Regions from separate parts of the Homo sapiens genome. Here region 2 is linked to region 1. A link means that fine-mapping ties the variant in region 1 to the expression of a gene that starts in the linked region. Tissue or cell type: whole blood. Region 1 holds a variant in brackets; the other region holds the start of a gene. All regions are shown on one strand. Distances are from middle to middle.

Region 1 (8,179 bases):
CTAGGCGTTAGGACTGGAGAAGCAGCTCCGGGCCACCGTCCCAGCTCTAATCTCACTTAGGCAATGCAGAGCTGTGGGCCTGACTACCACGTGTGTCTCTGGCTTGTTGAAATGGGCACTTTGTACATCTCACTTGTGCTGGGTAGAGTGTCTTTTCTTTAGAACCAGTACCAATCTCTTAGGCTTTTGGCATTCTCTGCAGCCAAATTCTAACATGCTTCTACTTAGCTGGAATGTACCCTCGGCTTACCTTTGGTAAATGGTATCTCCCCAGGTGAGCTTAGCCACTTCCATGGCTACAAAGACCTCATTTTAGGTCTAGCTCCAATTTCTTTTCTATGTACTCCAGATTCCTACATTCAGGTGCCTACAGGAGTCGTCTTTTAGATGTCTCTCAGGCATCAAAACACATGCCCTTAACTCATGCTTTTAGCCCCTGATCTGTTTGCCTCCAGTATGTGGGGCCACATCCATACAATTGCTCATGCTATCAACAAACACTCCCTCTTTCCTCTTGCTATGGCTTGAATATTTGTGTACCCTAAAAATTCATGTGTTGGAATTCTAACACTTAAACTGATGTTATTAGGAGGTGGGGACTTTGGCAGACCCCTCATGATTGGGATTAGTGTCCTTATAAAAGAGACTGCAGGCCGGGTGTGGTGGCTTACGTCTGTAATCCCAGTGCTTTGGGAGGCCAAGGTGTGAGAATTGCTTAAAGCCAGGAGTTCAAGACCGGCCTGGGAAACATAGCGACACGCCATCTTTTCAAAAAATTTATTTAGCCCGGTGTGGTGGCTGGTGCTTGTAGTCCTAGCTACTTGGGAGGCTGAGGCAGGAGGATTGCTTGAGCCCAGGAAGTTGAGGTTACAGTGAACTATGATTGGCCCACTGTACTCGAGCCTGTGAGGACCCAGCAAGAAGGTGCCATTGTGGAAATGGCCCTCACCAGACAATGAATCTGCCAGCACCTTGATCTGGGTTTCCTAGCCTCTAGAACTATGAGAAAAAAATTTCTGTTGTTTATAAACTACCTGGCTTATGGTAACTTTTTATAGAAGCCAGAACAGACTAAGACATCACATCCACTCAATCATCAAGTCTCATGGATTCTACCTCAAAAGTATCACCAAAACCTGAATGTTTCTGTCTCCCCTGTCCCCATCCTATCCAACAGTACTCACCTGGGTTACCTGAAAGAGCCCGCTGATGACTTTCATATCACACTTGTTCTCTGTCAACACAGCTAACACACTGCCATTTAATAAAAGAAGTATTAAAAAATGTTTGCTCCCTGAAACTCAGCAGAAAATTCCAGCATTATTGCGGGAAGACAACACTAGATGTTCATCTTTCCAGTCTTTGCTGCACAGAACTAGAGGGCCAGGTACCAGATGATTATGATGATTTCATCATCCAATTTGACACCTTCCATTGGCTTCCCATTGTCCTTAGGGACATTTAAATTTTCAACATGACCTTCCTAGTCATTACTTCCCTGCCAGTGTCAACTCCAGCTGTTCTTTTTCTCTTACCCCTCTCCAGCTACACTTTCTCTCAATTCATCAAACATACCAAGCTCTTTGAGAATTGTGCACATACTTTTCCTTTTACTTGGAACATCCCTTTCAATTCCTACATTCTTTGTTTTACCCTCCTTATAGCAATATGCTTGTAATTGAATATTAATTATGTAACTAATAAAATTTCATTGTCTCCATGGGAGGAGAGACCAGGAACATGGTAGATGCTTAAAATTATGCACTGATTGAAACTACTACGGCTCTGTCACTTTTATACCATTGGTTTCAGCTTAAAGACTGACAGAGGGCCGGGTGCAGTGGCTCATGCCTGTGATCCCAGCACTTTGGGAGGCCGAGGTGGGCAGATTACGAGGTCAGGAGTTCGAGACCAGCCTGGCCAATATGGTGAAACCCCATCTCTACTAAAAAAAATACAAAAATTAGCCGGGCATGGTGGTGCGCATCTGTAGTCGCAGCTAGTTGGGAGGCTGAGGCAGGAGAATCGCTTGAACCCAGGAGGCGGAAGTTGCAGTGAGCCGAGATTGTGCCACTGCACTCCAGCCTGGGCAACAGAGTGAGACTTTGTCAAAAAAAAAAAAAAAAAGAAAGGAGAATAGATACTGGTGCTGTCACTTACTAGTAGGCAAGAGGTGTAACAGTGTACCCAAAGAAGCTGTAAGGAGTTTAGAAAAAAACTAAGAAAGCTTCCAGGATAAATATATAATGATACCTTATAGGCTTGAAGGTAATAATTTAGCAAAGATGGCCGGTGCAGTGGCTCACACCTGTAATCCCAGCACTTTGGGAGGTCAAGGCAGGAGGATTACTTGAGGCCAGAAGTTCCAGACCAGCCTGGGCAACATAATAAGACCCATCTCTACCAAAAATTTAAAAATTAGGCCGGGCACAGTGGCTCACGCCTGTAATCCCAGCCCTTTGGGAGACCAAGGCAGGCAGATCACGGGGTCAAGAGATTGAGACCATCCTGGCCAACATGGTGAAACCCCATCTCTACTAAAAATACAAAACAAAAATAGCTGGTCATGGTGGCACGCACCTGTAGTCCCAGCTACTTGGGAGGCTGACACAGGAGAATTGCTTGAACCCAGGAGGTGGAGGTTGCAGTGAGCCAAGATCGCGCCACTGCACTCCAGCCTGGGGGACAAAGGGAGACTCTGTCTGAAAAAAAAAAAAAAAAAGCCGGGCGTAGTGGCACATGCCTGTAGTCCCAGCTACTCAGGAGGCTAAGGTGATAGGATCACTTGAGCCTGGGTGGAGGCTGTAGTGAGCTGTGATTGTTCCACCGTACTCACCCTGGGTGACAGAATGAGAACTCCCTCCCTGCCCAAAAAAAAAGTTTCATTTCACTGATTGGGCATCAACAAGATACAGAATGGGAGACTCCTGACTTTCTTTCCTTCCATGGATGCACTGAATAAGTATCTACACATGGATCAGTTCTCTCTGAGAGAAATATAGAAACTAGTTGAGACTCCCACACACTGGCAACTGATAATATATCCACATCAAAATGGATACCAACAAATTGAGACACAATGTAAACCAAAAACCTGGGCACAGTATCTTACAATTGGGAAGGAATCCCGAAATACCAGATTTTTGAAGAATGAAGGGTTGAGGCCAGACATATCGCTCCCAAACTTAAACAGTTTCCACGTGAGAGTTTGGCTCCTAAATCTTCTTATCCCGGGAATGGCAGGGTTTAGTATTTGTGAGTCCCCTGAGAAAAAAGGACATTTTATTTATTTATTTATTTATTTATTTATTTAGAGACAGAGTTTTGCTTTTTTCACCCAGGTTGTAGTGCAATGGCACAATATTGGCTTACTGCAACTTCCGCCTCCTGGGCTCAAGCGATTCTCCTGCCTTAGGCTATAGAGTAGGCGGGATTACAGGCGCACACCACCATGCCCAGCTAATTTTGTGGGGTTTTTTTTTTTTGTTT[G/T]TTTGTTTTTTTTGAGACAGAGTCTCTCTCTGTTGCCCAGGTTGGAGTGCAGTGGCGCAATCTCAACTCACTGCAACCTCTGCCTCCTGGGTTCAAGCGATTCTCCTGCCTCAGCCTCTCGAGTAGCTGGGACTACAGGCACTTGCCACCATGCCTGGCTAATTTTTTGTATTTTTAGTAGAGATGGGGTTTCACAGTGTTAGGATGGTCTCGATCTCCTGATCTTGTGATCCACCCGCCTCAGCCTCCCAAAGTGCTGGGATTACAGGTGTGAGCCACCATGCCCAGCCATAAGAGGACATTTTAAACAGGTATGTGAGCACTTTCAGCGGCTGTCCCCCAGGGTCAGTGCAGAGCAAGCAGGCAGAAATGCACCATCTGCTGGGCACCATGGCTCATGCCTGTAATCCCAGTGCTTTGAGATGCTGAGGCAGAGGATCACTTGAGGCCAGGAGTTTGAAAACAGCCTGGGGAACATACAAACACCCTGCCTCTACCAAAACAAAAAAAAATTTTTTTTAATTAGCCAGGTGTGGTGACATATGCCTATAGTCCTAGCTACTCAGGATGCTGAGGCAGGATGATCGCTTGAGCCCAAGATTCAGGGTTGCACTGAGCTATGATGGAGCCACTGCGTTACAGCCTAGGTGGCAGAGTGAGACCCTGTCTCTAAAAAAAAAGAAAAGAAACAAAAGAATTTAAAAAAGCAGTTCCACAGTCTCCCTAAAAGGGATTTATCTACACATTTTTCCCAACTGCTGCCTGAACGCTGGGCTTCTAAGTAGCCTACATCGAGTAGCTGATAGGGCTGGTAAACAATAGACCTCCAGGAGCATGAACAGGCATGTGGGAACTTCACTGTCGTTCTCCCCTCTGCCACTACTCCATTCAGAGATAAAACTAGGGGCCAGGCACGGTGGCTCACCCCTGTAATCCCAGCACTTTGGGTGGCCAAGGCAGGTGGATCAGTGGAGGTCAGGAGTTCAAGACCAGCCTGGTCAACATGGTGAAACCCTCTCTCTGTTAAAAAATACAAAAAGTTACCTGGGCATGGTTGGGGGTTGTCAGGGAGGTGCACCTGTAATCCCAGCTACTCCGGAGGCTGAGGCAGGAGAATGGCTTGAACTCAGGAGGCAGAGGTGGCAGTGAGCTGAGATTGTGCCACTCTACTTCTGCCTGGGTGACAGAGTGAGACTCTGTCTCAAAAATAAAACAACAAAACAAAAAAAAACTAGGCTTCTAGCTTCTTCCTGGACAGTGTACCCCAACTTTTACAGCTTCCACCCAAGGGACCAGCTTCTAAGCTCCTAAATCATCTGTCTCTGGGAATTGATAAGACTGCATTCACAAGTCCCCCTAGACTACAGAGAAGAAAAGTGATTTTAAAAGAGTGTTTGAGCAGTTCTAGCATCCGTTTCCCCTAACTCAGTACAAAGCGAGCAGACAAAAACACCCAGTTCCCAGTTTACCCCCAGGAAGGGGTTTGACTGCACACCTAACGTCCCAACTTTCCCAGCCGCTGTCCATGAGTCAGGCCTCTAGCCTATATCTGGGCACTGACAGGGCAGGCAATAAGTAGTCCTCTGGGAGCCTGAATGGGCATGCAGTTGCTTCCCGCAATTCCTTTTGCAGGCTCACTCTAGAGATGGAGCCAAGCCTCTGAACAATCCATCTGTCCTGGACAGTAGATGGGAGCTGCAATTGACTAGGCCCCTGGGGGTAACAACACATTAGGCAATGGGTTGAAAGAGTATGTGGTCTGAATGAGAATGCAGGCATTTGCTTGGGATTATCTCCCCAGCTTAGTACAGGGCAAGTGGGAGATCAACACCAGTTCCCAGCTTCTCCTTGAGGATAGAAGGAACTGGAACACATATAACACCCCAACTTTTCTAGCTAAATTTCAGTAACTGGCTTCAATATCACCAGTCTTGGGGCACTGATGGCATTTGGTGCACCCCAATCTCTTGGGGCTACTAAGAACAAAGACAGCAGTTTGTACAAGCACAAAAGTTTGAGAGGTGCCTAGAATCTGGTTGGGTTGATTGGTGAGGTTCATCTCCTACGAAAAATCAGATATTAAGACTTGGAAAGAGAGTTGTCTTATCTAATGCATGAAAATCAACACAGTCAACAAAAAAATCAAGAAATAGAAAATACGTTCCAAACAAAAGATGAAGAAATCTCCAGAAACCAATTCCAATGAAATACAGATCAGTGATTTTACCTATTAGAGAATTAAAAATAGGCTGGGTGCAGTGGCTCATGCCTGTAATCCTAGCACTGTGGGAGACCGAGGCGGGTGGATCACCTGAGGTCAGATGTTCGAGACTAGCCTGGCCAACATGGTGAAACCTCATCTCTACTAAAAATACAGAAATCAGCCAGGCGTGGTGGCGGGCACCTGTAATCCCAGCTACTCGGAAGGCTGAGACAGGAGAATCGCTTGAACCTGGGAGGTGGAGGTTGCAGTGAACCAAGATCGTGTCATTGCACTCCAGCCTAGGCAACAGAGCAAAACGTCCTCTCAAAAAAAAAAAAAGAGAATTAAAAATAATCATAAATATGCTCACTGATGTCAGGAGTATAATGTATGAACAAACCGAGACTTTCAACAAAGAGAAAATACAAAAACAAGGGTTGGCATGGTGGCTCACACTGTCATCCCAGCACTTTGGGAGGCCAAGGTGGGAGGATTGCTTGAGGTTAGGAGTTCAAGACCAGCCTGGTTTACATAGTAAGACCCCATGTCTACAAAAAATTAAAAATTAGCCTGGCATGGTGGCATACGCCTGTGGTCCCAGCTCCTCTGGGGGCTGAGGTGGGAGGATCACTTCAGCCTGGGATGCCAAGGCTGCAGTGAGCTGTTATCACACCACTGCACTCCAGCCTGGGTGACTGAGTGAGACCCTGTCTCAGAAAAAGGAGAAAATTTAAAAACATACCAAACAGAAGTTATAGATCTGAAGTACATAATAACTCATCTGAAAAATTCTCTAGAGGGTTTCACTCACAGACTAGGTCAAGCAGAAAAAAGAGTCAGTGAATTTGAAGACCAGCCATTGGAAATTATCCAACCAGAGGGGCAAAAATGAGAAAAAAAGAAAGAGTGAGGATAGATTAAGGTACTTAAGGGACACCATCGAGTAGACTAATGTATGCATTAGTGGATTTTCAGAAGGCAGAGAGAGCAAAACGGACAGAAAGCATATTCAAACAAACAGTGGCTGAAACCCTTCCAAAACTGGGGAATGAAATAGAAATCAAGACCCAAGAAGTCCAAGGGACATGAAATAAGATGAATCCTGCCAGGTGCGGTGGCTCATGCCTGTAATCCCAGCCCTTTGGGAGGCCGAGGCAGGTGGATCACTTGAGGTCAGGAGTTCGAGACCAGCCTGGCCAACATGGTGAAACCCCGTCTCTGCTAAAAATATAAAAATTAGCCGCGCGCGGTGGCATGTGCCTGTAATGCCAGCTACTCAGGAGGCTGAGGCAGGAGAATGGCTTGAACCTGGGAGGTGGAGGTTGCAGTGAGCCTAGATCATGCCATAGCACTCCAGCCTGAGCGACAGAGCGAGACTGTCTCAAAAAAAAAAAAAATAAGATGAATCCAAAGAGATCCACACTGACATACATTACAATCAAATTGTCAAAAGTTAGAGACAGAATTTTGAAAGCAGCCAAGGGAAAAGCAACTTCTGTGTACAAGGGTCCCCTAATAAAACTATTAACAGAGTTTCCAGCATAAACCTTGTGGGCCAGAAAGGAGTGGGACAATAGATACAAAGTGCTGAAAGAAAAAAACTTCCAGTCAAGAATGCTATATCCAACAAACCCATACTTCAAAAATGAGAGGGAAATAAAGACTTTCTCAAACAAAAGCTGAGGGAGATTATCACCACTAGACCTGCCTTATAAGAAATGCTAAAGAGAGTTCTTAAGGTTAAAACAAAAGTATGGAAAACAGTAACAGGAGCACACGAAGTATGAAACTCATTGGCAAAGGTAAATATATAGTCAAAACCAATAGTGTATTACTATAACAGTAGTGGGTAAATCAATTTTAGTTCTCTTATAAAAGTTAAAAGACAAAAGTAGTAAAACAACTATATTATGTTAATTGGTACAATATAAATAGGTGTTAGTGGTGATATCAATAGCATATAAGCCAGGGGAAGAGAGATAAAAGCAAAGTTCTGACATGCAAGGGAAGTTAAGTTGTTATCAGCTTAAAGTAGACTATTATAAGAGATTTTATGTAAACACTTGGTAACTACAAAGAAAATGCCTATAGAATTAAAGAAAAGGAGAAAATAATGAAAACATAGGCCAGGAGTTCGAGACTAGCCTGTCCAACATGGCAAAACCCCATCTCTACTAAAAATAGAAAAATTAGCCAGGTGTGGTGCTGCACACTTGTAATCCCAGCTACTTGGAAGGCTGAGGCAGGAGAATTGCTTGAACCAGAAGGCGAAGGTTGCAGTGAGCCGAGATTGTGCCATTGCCCTCCAGCCTGGGTGACAGAGCAAGACTCCATCTCAAAAAAAAAAAAAAAAAAAAAACAGTGAAATACAAAAGAAAACAGCAAGAGAAAGGGACAGAAGGACTATAAGACTAACAGAAATAAGTAACAAAATATCAATAGTAAATCTTTCCTTATTTTTTATTTTATGTTTTGTTTGTTGTTGTT
Region 2 (8,179 bases), 290 kb before region 1:
CAGCCTGGGCAACAGAGCAAGACTCTGTCTCAAAAAAAAAAAAAAAAAAAAAAAGAGAGAGATGATTTCCTGAATGGAGCGAAAAAGGGATGAAATGTGAAGCCGAGACACCCCCCACCCACCCCCATTCCCTGAGGACATGCTGGAAAGGGCTCTGCCTGGAGTGTGGTGATAGGGAACACAGGCAGGCCCATGCAGGCCTATAGGAGGAGGCAGAAGGAGTTTGGAAAGGATTGTAAATATGTGCATGTGTGTTGGTAGGGGGACCACTGGAGGATCTGAGAGACGGAGTATGATCCGGCTGCTGTGGAGGATGGGAGGCTGGCAAGAGCGGAAGCAGGGGGCCTGTCAGGGCTGCTGGAGTGGTCTGGGTGACAGGACCCTGCTCTTCCACCCAAATCTGCCCACCCTCTTTCCATTCCCTTCTCAATTGCTTAAGCTGGGAACTTGCCACTTTCCACCTGGAAGCGTTTCCTGACACATCCTCTTCCACCCAGCTCTGTCCCGGCCCCACTGAAGGTCACTCTCCTGGCTCCTGTGCTTCTCTGCAGCACGTGCCACGAGCTGGAGTCGCTATTTTTGTACAGTTATTAGAGTGTGGCAGTGAATCTTCAGTGTGCCTCCGAATTACCTGGGAACCTCAGTGGAGCCGCCTGGGCCCCACTCCGGGACTGAGGAGGTGCCGGGAAATCGGCATTATGAGGCTGCAGCTGGGTCTGGACCAAATGTTAGACCAGGGTGTATGGTCTGAATCTCCAACTAGTCTCTAACCTCCAGCAAGGTGTAAAGCAAAAACAAATTCTTTTTTTGCTGTTGTTTTTTGAGATAGAGTCTCACTCTGTTGCCCAGGCTGGAGTGCAGTGGCACGATCTCAGCTCACTGCAACCTCTGCCTCCCGGGTTCAAGCGATTCTCCTGCCTCAGCCTCCCGAGTAGCTGGGATTATAGGCATGTGCCGCCATGCCCGGCTAATTTTGTATTTTTAGTGGAGACAGGGTTTCTCCATGTTGGTCAGGCTGGTCTTGAACTCCCAACATCAGGTGATCCGCCTGCCTCGGCCTCCCAAAGTACTGGGATTACAGGCGTGAGCCACCGTGCCCAGCCGGCAAAAACACATTATAAGTCCCCCAACCCATGGAATGGATCATTCCTCTCCACCAAGGGGATTTCAAAGAAACCTAAAAAACTAGTTCAGGCCATAATTGGAAGGATGGGGTGGGTCCTGCCTCATTACACCCTCCACCCCTTGGAAATGAGGCACAACTGACCAGCGTTAACATTACAAAGGACTTTTTTTTTTTTTTGAGACGGAATCTTGTTCTGTTGCCCAGGCTGGAGTGGGAGTGCAGTGGTGCGATCTTGGCTCACTGCAATCTCTGCCTCCTGGGTTCAAGCGATTCCCCTGCTTCAGCCTCCCGAGTAGCCTCAGCTGTACACAGGTGCACACCACCACACCCAGGTAATTTTTTTTGTTTTTGAGACAGACTTTCACTCTTGTTGCCCAGGCTGGAGTGCAATGGTGCGGTATCAGCTCACTGCAACCTTCACCTCCTGGGTTCCAGCGATTCTCCTGCCTTAACCTCCTGCGTAGCTGGGATTACAGGCATGCGCCACCACGCCTGACTGATTTTTTGTATTTTTAGTAGAGACGGAGTTTCTCCCTGTCAGTCACGCTGGTCTCGAACTCCCGACCTCAGGTGATCTGCCCGCCTCAGCCTCCCAAAGTGCTAGGATTACAGGCGTGAGCCACTGCTCTTGGCCTAATTTTTGTATTTTTAGTAGAGATGGGGTTTTGCCATGCCGACCAGGCTGGTCTCAACCTCCTGACCTCAAGTGATAAGACCACCTTGGCCTCCTAAAGTGCTGGAATTACATGCGTAAGCCACCATGCCAGGCCACCTTTGCAGGTCTTTTCCTGATCCTGAGGGTCTAGGAATTTTTAACGGTCTGAATAAACAATATTTGCGAAAACATTTGCCATCTATTACCTGTAAGGGTGGTCATCTATGAGACTTCCTCTACATAATAAGAACCTTGGTCTTCACAACCTGTTTTTTGTTTGTTTGTTTGTTTGTTTGTTTTGAGACAGGGTGTGGCTCTCTTGCCCAAGCTGGAGTTCAATGGCACGAACTTGGCTCACTGCAACCTCTCCCTCCTGGGCTTAAGCAATCCACCCACCTCAGCCTCCCTTGTAGCTGGGATTACAGGCCTCCGCCACCACATCCGGTACAGGTATGTTTGGTACAGACAGGGTCTCACCATGTTGCCCACGCTGCTCTCCAACTCCTGACCTCAAGCAATTCGCCCACCTCGGCATCCCAAAGTGTTGGGATTACAGGTGTGAGTCACCGTGCTCGTGCCCACAACCCCTTATCTTCACCCAGACACTCTTTTTATTGATTCCAGGTCTGTATAACTCAACTCTTTTTTTTCTTTTTTTTGTTTTCTTTTTTTTTTTTTTTTGAGACGGAGTCACAGCTCTGTCGCCCAGGCTGCAGTGCAAGTGGCACGATCTCGGCTCACTGCAACCGCAGCCTCCCGGGTTCACGCTATTCTTCCGCCTCAGCCTCCCCAGGAGCTGGGACTACAGGCACGTGCCACCTTGCCCAGCTAATTTTTTGTATCTTAGTAGAGATGATGGGTTTTCACCATGTTGGCCAGGCTGGTCTCGGACTCCTGACCGCAGGCAGTCCGCCCACCTCAGCCTCCCAAAGTGCTAGGATTACAGGCGTGAGCCACCGCGCCCAACCAGAACTCAACTCTTTTAACCAATTGCCAATCAGAAAGTATCTGAATCCACCTATGACCTCTAAGTATTTCACCCTTTGAGTTGTCCTGCCTTTCCACACGGAACCAACCTATGTCTTACATGCATTGACTGATGTCTTATGTCTCTCTAAAATGTATAAAACCAAGCAAGCTGTAACCCAAGCACCTTGGGCCAAGTTCTCAGGACCTTTTGAGACTGTGCCTCCCTCCATGCACACTCATATTTGGCTCAGAATAACCTTCTAAATACTTTAGAGTTTGACTCTTCTCGACAAGGACAAGAGAAGTGGAATAAACGAATAACCGCAGTTTTCCTGGTGGTATTGGTCACTGGGTTCAGGTTTTGGAGTAGTAGCCAGTCAAGCCTGGAATCCCCTTCCTCATTCGCTTTAGCTTTTTGTCCAGTCTTGGTTTGCAAGAGACTTGCAGCGGCCTAGACGGATGGCCGGGATTCACAAAGGTCGCAGACACGGGAACTGCTTCTTCCCCAGCGTCGCCTCCACACCCTCGCGTGGATACTGACATCCGCCCCATTCCAGGAATGCGCACAGCTAGGCGCAGCCGGCCAGCGTGGGCCGGGGGCGGCGGGGCCACCTCCCCCACCTCCGCGCGCAAGGCCCGTCGCCCTTGACAACGCGATCCAAGGTCACGGAGGTCCCACCCCCAGGCCCGACCGTCCACGAGACGGGTAGTACCCCGCCACGCGCCCGAGCAGGCAGCTGCCCGGACAGCCCGGCGCCCGCCGTGACGTCACCGCCCCGCGCCCGAGGAAGCCCCGCCCCGCGCAGCCCCGTCCCGCCCCTTCCCATCGTGTACGGTCCCGCGTGGCTGCGCGCGGCGCTCTGGGAGTACGACATGGCGCGCGAGCTGCGGGCGCTGCTGCTGTGGGGCCGCCGCCTGCGGCCTTTGCTGCGGGCGCCGGCGCTGGCGGCCGTGCCGGGAGGTGAGGGCGTCCTGGCTGGACGGGCAGCGGGCGGGCCGGGCCACGGAGACGGCAGGGACGTCCCTGTGCTCCGGGGAGCGAGGCGCCGGCACCTGCTTCACAGGCGTGGGAGGTCCGGCGAGGCCAAGCGCGGCAGACGCGTTTACTTTCGCTCCGCTCCTCGCCAGCTCCAGCTTGGCTGCCTTTTCCTCGGCTGGACTCCCCTCGCCACCCGCCCATGGGAGCCCTGAAGGAGGCTGGGTCTTGGGGGGTCGCGGGGTCGGGCGGAGCGGCTGCGGGGTCGTCCCTCCTGGAGCTTCGGTCCAGTCAGGTAGCGCACGTGCAGGTGGAGCCGCTGCGGAGCGCGGAGTCTTTGCGGGTGCATGTTGCGGGGAATGGACTCACTCGGGGTGATCGTGCTAGTTCCATGGATCGTGCTTTACCCCTCCCCGCCTCCCAGTAGCGCACTGAGGGTTCATTTGTTAATTCGTTCATTGGACGCACATGTGAGCGCCCGCTCAGTGCCCGGCGCCGTGCAGGTTCTGGGGACGCCACAGTGAACAAAACCTATAGCAGTCATCCGGGTCCCCAGAGCAGGTGGACTCGATGTCGTTGACGCAGCTGTGTCCTCGGGGCCTGGAATTGATGGATGCGCCAATAAATGTTTGTAAAACAGAGAGAACGACCCTAACCTCTGCTTTCCCAGTCCCCACTCGGAGGTAACAACAGTGAAAGTTTCGGCATTGCTTCGGGGCTGTACACAGTGTTATACGTGTAAATATAAATGTCTGCGTATAAGTATTTTTTATTCTAAAAAGCCTAAACCATGTATGCATTGTGCTACGTTGTACTTCAGAAAATTTTAACGCTCCCAGCATTCTTTCCACATCTTTTCATGTCAGTGTATACAGGTCCATGTGCCTTCCAGTGACCACACAGTATTCTGTATGATGGACGTGTCATTTGTTTAAACATTGTCCTATTAGTGGACGCAATAAAGGTTATTTCAGGTTTTACTTTTTATTACAATGCTGCATAGAATGGGTGAGTACTTAAATATTTGTTCACGTGCGGTATTTCTTTAGCCTTACATAATTAGAATTTTAGAATTGATATTTCAGAGCCTATGCATTTTTGAAATGTTAGCAGATACTGCCAAATTGTCCAAAAAGGCCTTATCAATTTATATCCCCTTTAGCAGGCATCAAGACTGCCTATTCCAAAGGTATTTTCTTCAACGCTGAATCTTATGTCTTTTCAAAACCAGTGGTCTATAAAAGATACCTTGTGGCCGGGCGCGGTGGCTCACGCCTGTAATCCTAGCACTTTGGGAGCCTGAGGTGGGCAGATCAGGAGTTCAAGACCAGCCTGGCCAACATGGTGAAACCCTGTCTCTACTAAAAATACAAAAATTAGCTGGGTGTGGTGGCGCGCGCCTGTAATCCCAGCTTCTTGGGAGGCTGAGGCAGGAGAATCGCTTGAACCCAGGAGGCAGAGATTGCAGTGAGCTGAGATTGCACCACTGCACTCCAGCCTGGGCGACAGAGTGAGACTTCATCTCAACAACAAAAATAATAATAATTTTCCCTCAGAAAGTGATGCTGTTGCTCTCTTCTAGCACCAGTGTCTGATCAATTATTTATTTATTTTTTTGTCTTTATGAGGTGGGGTTTCACTATGTTGGCCAGGCTGGTCTCCAGTGCCTGACCTCAAGTGATCTGCCTGCCTTGCCCTCCAAAATGCTGGGATTGCAGGCGTGTGTCACCGTGCCTGGCCAACTGTTCTGTTAATTTGGTTCTCGTTTCTTTTGTAGCTGACTCGGGTTTTTTCCCCCTTGGAGGTTAAGATTTTTTCTCTTTGTCGTTTGTGGTCTCGCGTCCACAGGTGTTTGTGATTCATGCTTTGTATCATGCACTGTCCCTTCCATTTGGAAAATATGTCAGTTTTCAGCCCAGGGACATTTTAATTCTGTTTCTTTATCTCTTTTTCTTTTTCTTTTTTTTTGAGATGGAGTCTTGCTCTGTCACCCAGGCTGGAGTGCAGTGGCGCGATCTTGGCTCACTGCAAGCTCCGCCTCCCGGGTTCAGGCCATTCTCCTGCCTCAGCCTCCCGAGTAGCTGGGACTTTAGGCGCCCACCACCATGCCTGGCTAATTTTTTGTATTTTTAGTAGAGACGGGGTTTCACCCTGTTAGCCAGGATGGTCTCGATCTCCTGACCTCGTGATCCGCCCACTTCGGCCTCCCAAAGTGCTGGGATTACAAGCGTGAGCCGCTGTGCCCAGCCCTTTATCTCTTTTTCTTAAAAATTGTCTCTCTCCTCTCGTCCTCCATCTTCTGGTGCGGTGGTTCAAGCATTCCTCTGCCTGAGTCTAAGAAATGGAACATGTTCTTGGCAGCCTTCTGCGTGGCAGGTGCCCTTGTCATTGTCACCTGTGTGGATGAATGGGAAGGTAAATTGTTTGGATTGATTGAACGATGAGAGAATTTAGCTAAGAAAATACATGTCTTGTGCAACAGGGGAGAAAGAATAGTTTAGGCAGATCCACCTATGTAGAAAATCCAGACCTCTTGAAATTTTTTTCTTTTCTTGGGAAAGTATTTCCAGGTTGTAGCATGTGCCTGGCTTCAGGTGTGCGTGTCTTATGTCTGTGGAATCCTCTCGCCCATGCTACGCTGCCTCAGTCACCCATGAGCTCAGCCCTCTTACCCTTTCAGACCTCACTGACCCCTGACACTGCCAGCCCTGTCACTTGCCCTCAGAATATCTTATTTGATTTTTTTTGAGCCGGAGTCTTGCTCTGTTGCCCAGGCTGGAGTGCAGTGGTGCAACCTCAGCTCACCACACCCTCCGCCTCCTGGGTTCGAGTGATTCTCCTGACTTCGCCTCCCACGTAGCTGGGACTACAGGCGCATGCCACCACACCCAGCTAGGTTTTGTATTTTTAATAGAGATGGGGTTTCACTATGCTGGCCAGGGTGGTCTCGAACTCCTGACCTCATGATCCACTAGCCTTGGCCTCCCAAAATGCTGGGATTACAGGCGTGAGCCACTGCGCCTGGCCTACCCTCAGAATATTTCTGTGAGGGGTGGGCTAGGATATCCGCTTGTGGACTTTATATTTGTCATTTTTGCCCATAACAGTTTATTCAGCAAATACATTTCCAATGCCCCCGAGTCGTCAAAGAAAATGTGACCCTGCTGTCTGGAGTCATAGGTGGCTGCTGAGCAGTGTACCAGGGCCATCTTGGTGGCCTGGACAGCACATTAGAGAAACAAGAGCTGCTTGCCCCAGGGTAAGTTTCACAGATGAGGAGCGATTTGGGCCGAGTGTCCAAGGCTGTTTTCACTGGAGGGGAGGGAGGAACGTTCCATGTCTGGAAAGCTGCAGGTGCAAGGGTAAGGAGATAGCTCTGAATAATTGGTTTGATGAAAGACTTGCGGGAGTGTGCAGGAGTGATGGTGAATGAGGCTAGCAGTTGTGTCTTTTCTGTCAGATATAAGCTTGTGCGTAGGAGCCTCATCCTGCATTCCTCAGGACAGTCACAGAGCCAGCCCTGGGCCTGGTGTGTGGGGAGCCCAGCCACGTGGCCCACCATGAGAGCTTTTCGTCAGAGCTCCAACTGTCAGAAGTGTCAGATGTGCCAGTAGAAGGATGAGGCCGCCTCCTAAAGGAGAGGGAAGACCTGGAAAGATCAACAGCAGACGCAGTCTCCCAAAGCAAACGTGATTCTGTGGTCAGGCAGGTACGGTGACGGGTTGGTCATTTTGCATGACGAGGTGACTGCCACAATCACCAAGGGTGCCGAGTCCAGTCTCCTGGTCATGCCAGATGCTCTTGTTTTCGTGAAATTGCCAGAACATGACTGAGGCAACCACGATAGGACTGGTTGGTGCAGGCGTTAAGATCTTGGGCCTTTTTGTTCTCTGTAAGCTGGAGCCTTTGCTGGAACTTCCTGTCTTGGAAATCAGAGTTGTGAGAGTAGGTCCCCTGCCAGCACCAGGAAGGTCGGGAGAGCTGGTTTCCTCACTTTGCTCAGGGCTCAAGTACTAGCTAGTTTGTTTCATCTTCCAAAAAGAGCCTCACCTGGACCCCGCTCCTGTAGGTGGTGCCTGCCTGCTGCGCCCTCCCCTTCAGTACTTCGTTTTGTTGACGGGTTTTGCCTCCTCCCTCTGCTCTCCCTTTGTTTGGAGCCTGTGCTGTTTGATTTCCGTGTCTTGTGTGCTGCACCCTTCAGGAGAATTCAGGTGAATTTCTGGTGCTCTCCGGCTGTTCTTTTCAGAGTGGAGGGGAGTAGTACTTGCTGGTCAGTTGCGACTCTGTCTGTGAAACAGCTCTTTGTGTTGCTGAGATGACGCTAGAGGTGTAGCGTCCATGACATGTTTGTCGTCTGATTAAGCTGTGGTGCTGGCACTTAGACGGCAGAGGAAGGTGTGGCCCAGCTGTCCAAGGCCACCAGGAGGACCTTCAGCTTAGTTAGGACCAAGGG

Evidence for each region. PIP is the estimated chance that this variant, and not a neighbour inherited with it, causes the effect.
Region 2: TRAP1 starts here. The variant in region 1 is fine-mapped to the expression of TRAP1 in whole blood (INTERVAL, PIP above 0.99).

Annotation. Positions count from the first base shown.
Region 1 is chr16:3,423,515-3,431,693 of GRCh38, reverse strand. No RefSeq gene overlaps it. Among named protein-coding and RNA genes, the nearest start is that of ZNF597, 16 kb to the left of the region's middle. RefSeq lists an enhancer at 1-243. The variant G/T (reference allele first, on the strand shown) is at 3,490.
Region 2 is chr16:3,712,953-3,721,131 of GRCh38, reverse strand. It overlaps TRAP1 (TNF receptor associated protein 1), which reads left to right and starts at 3,608. Exons shown (of 18, transcript NM_016292.3): 1 at 3,608-3,711. The coding sequence starts at 3,624. RefSeq lists silencers at 3,258-3,867, 3,888-4,007 and an enhancer at 6,862-7,370.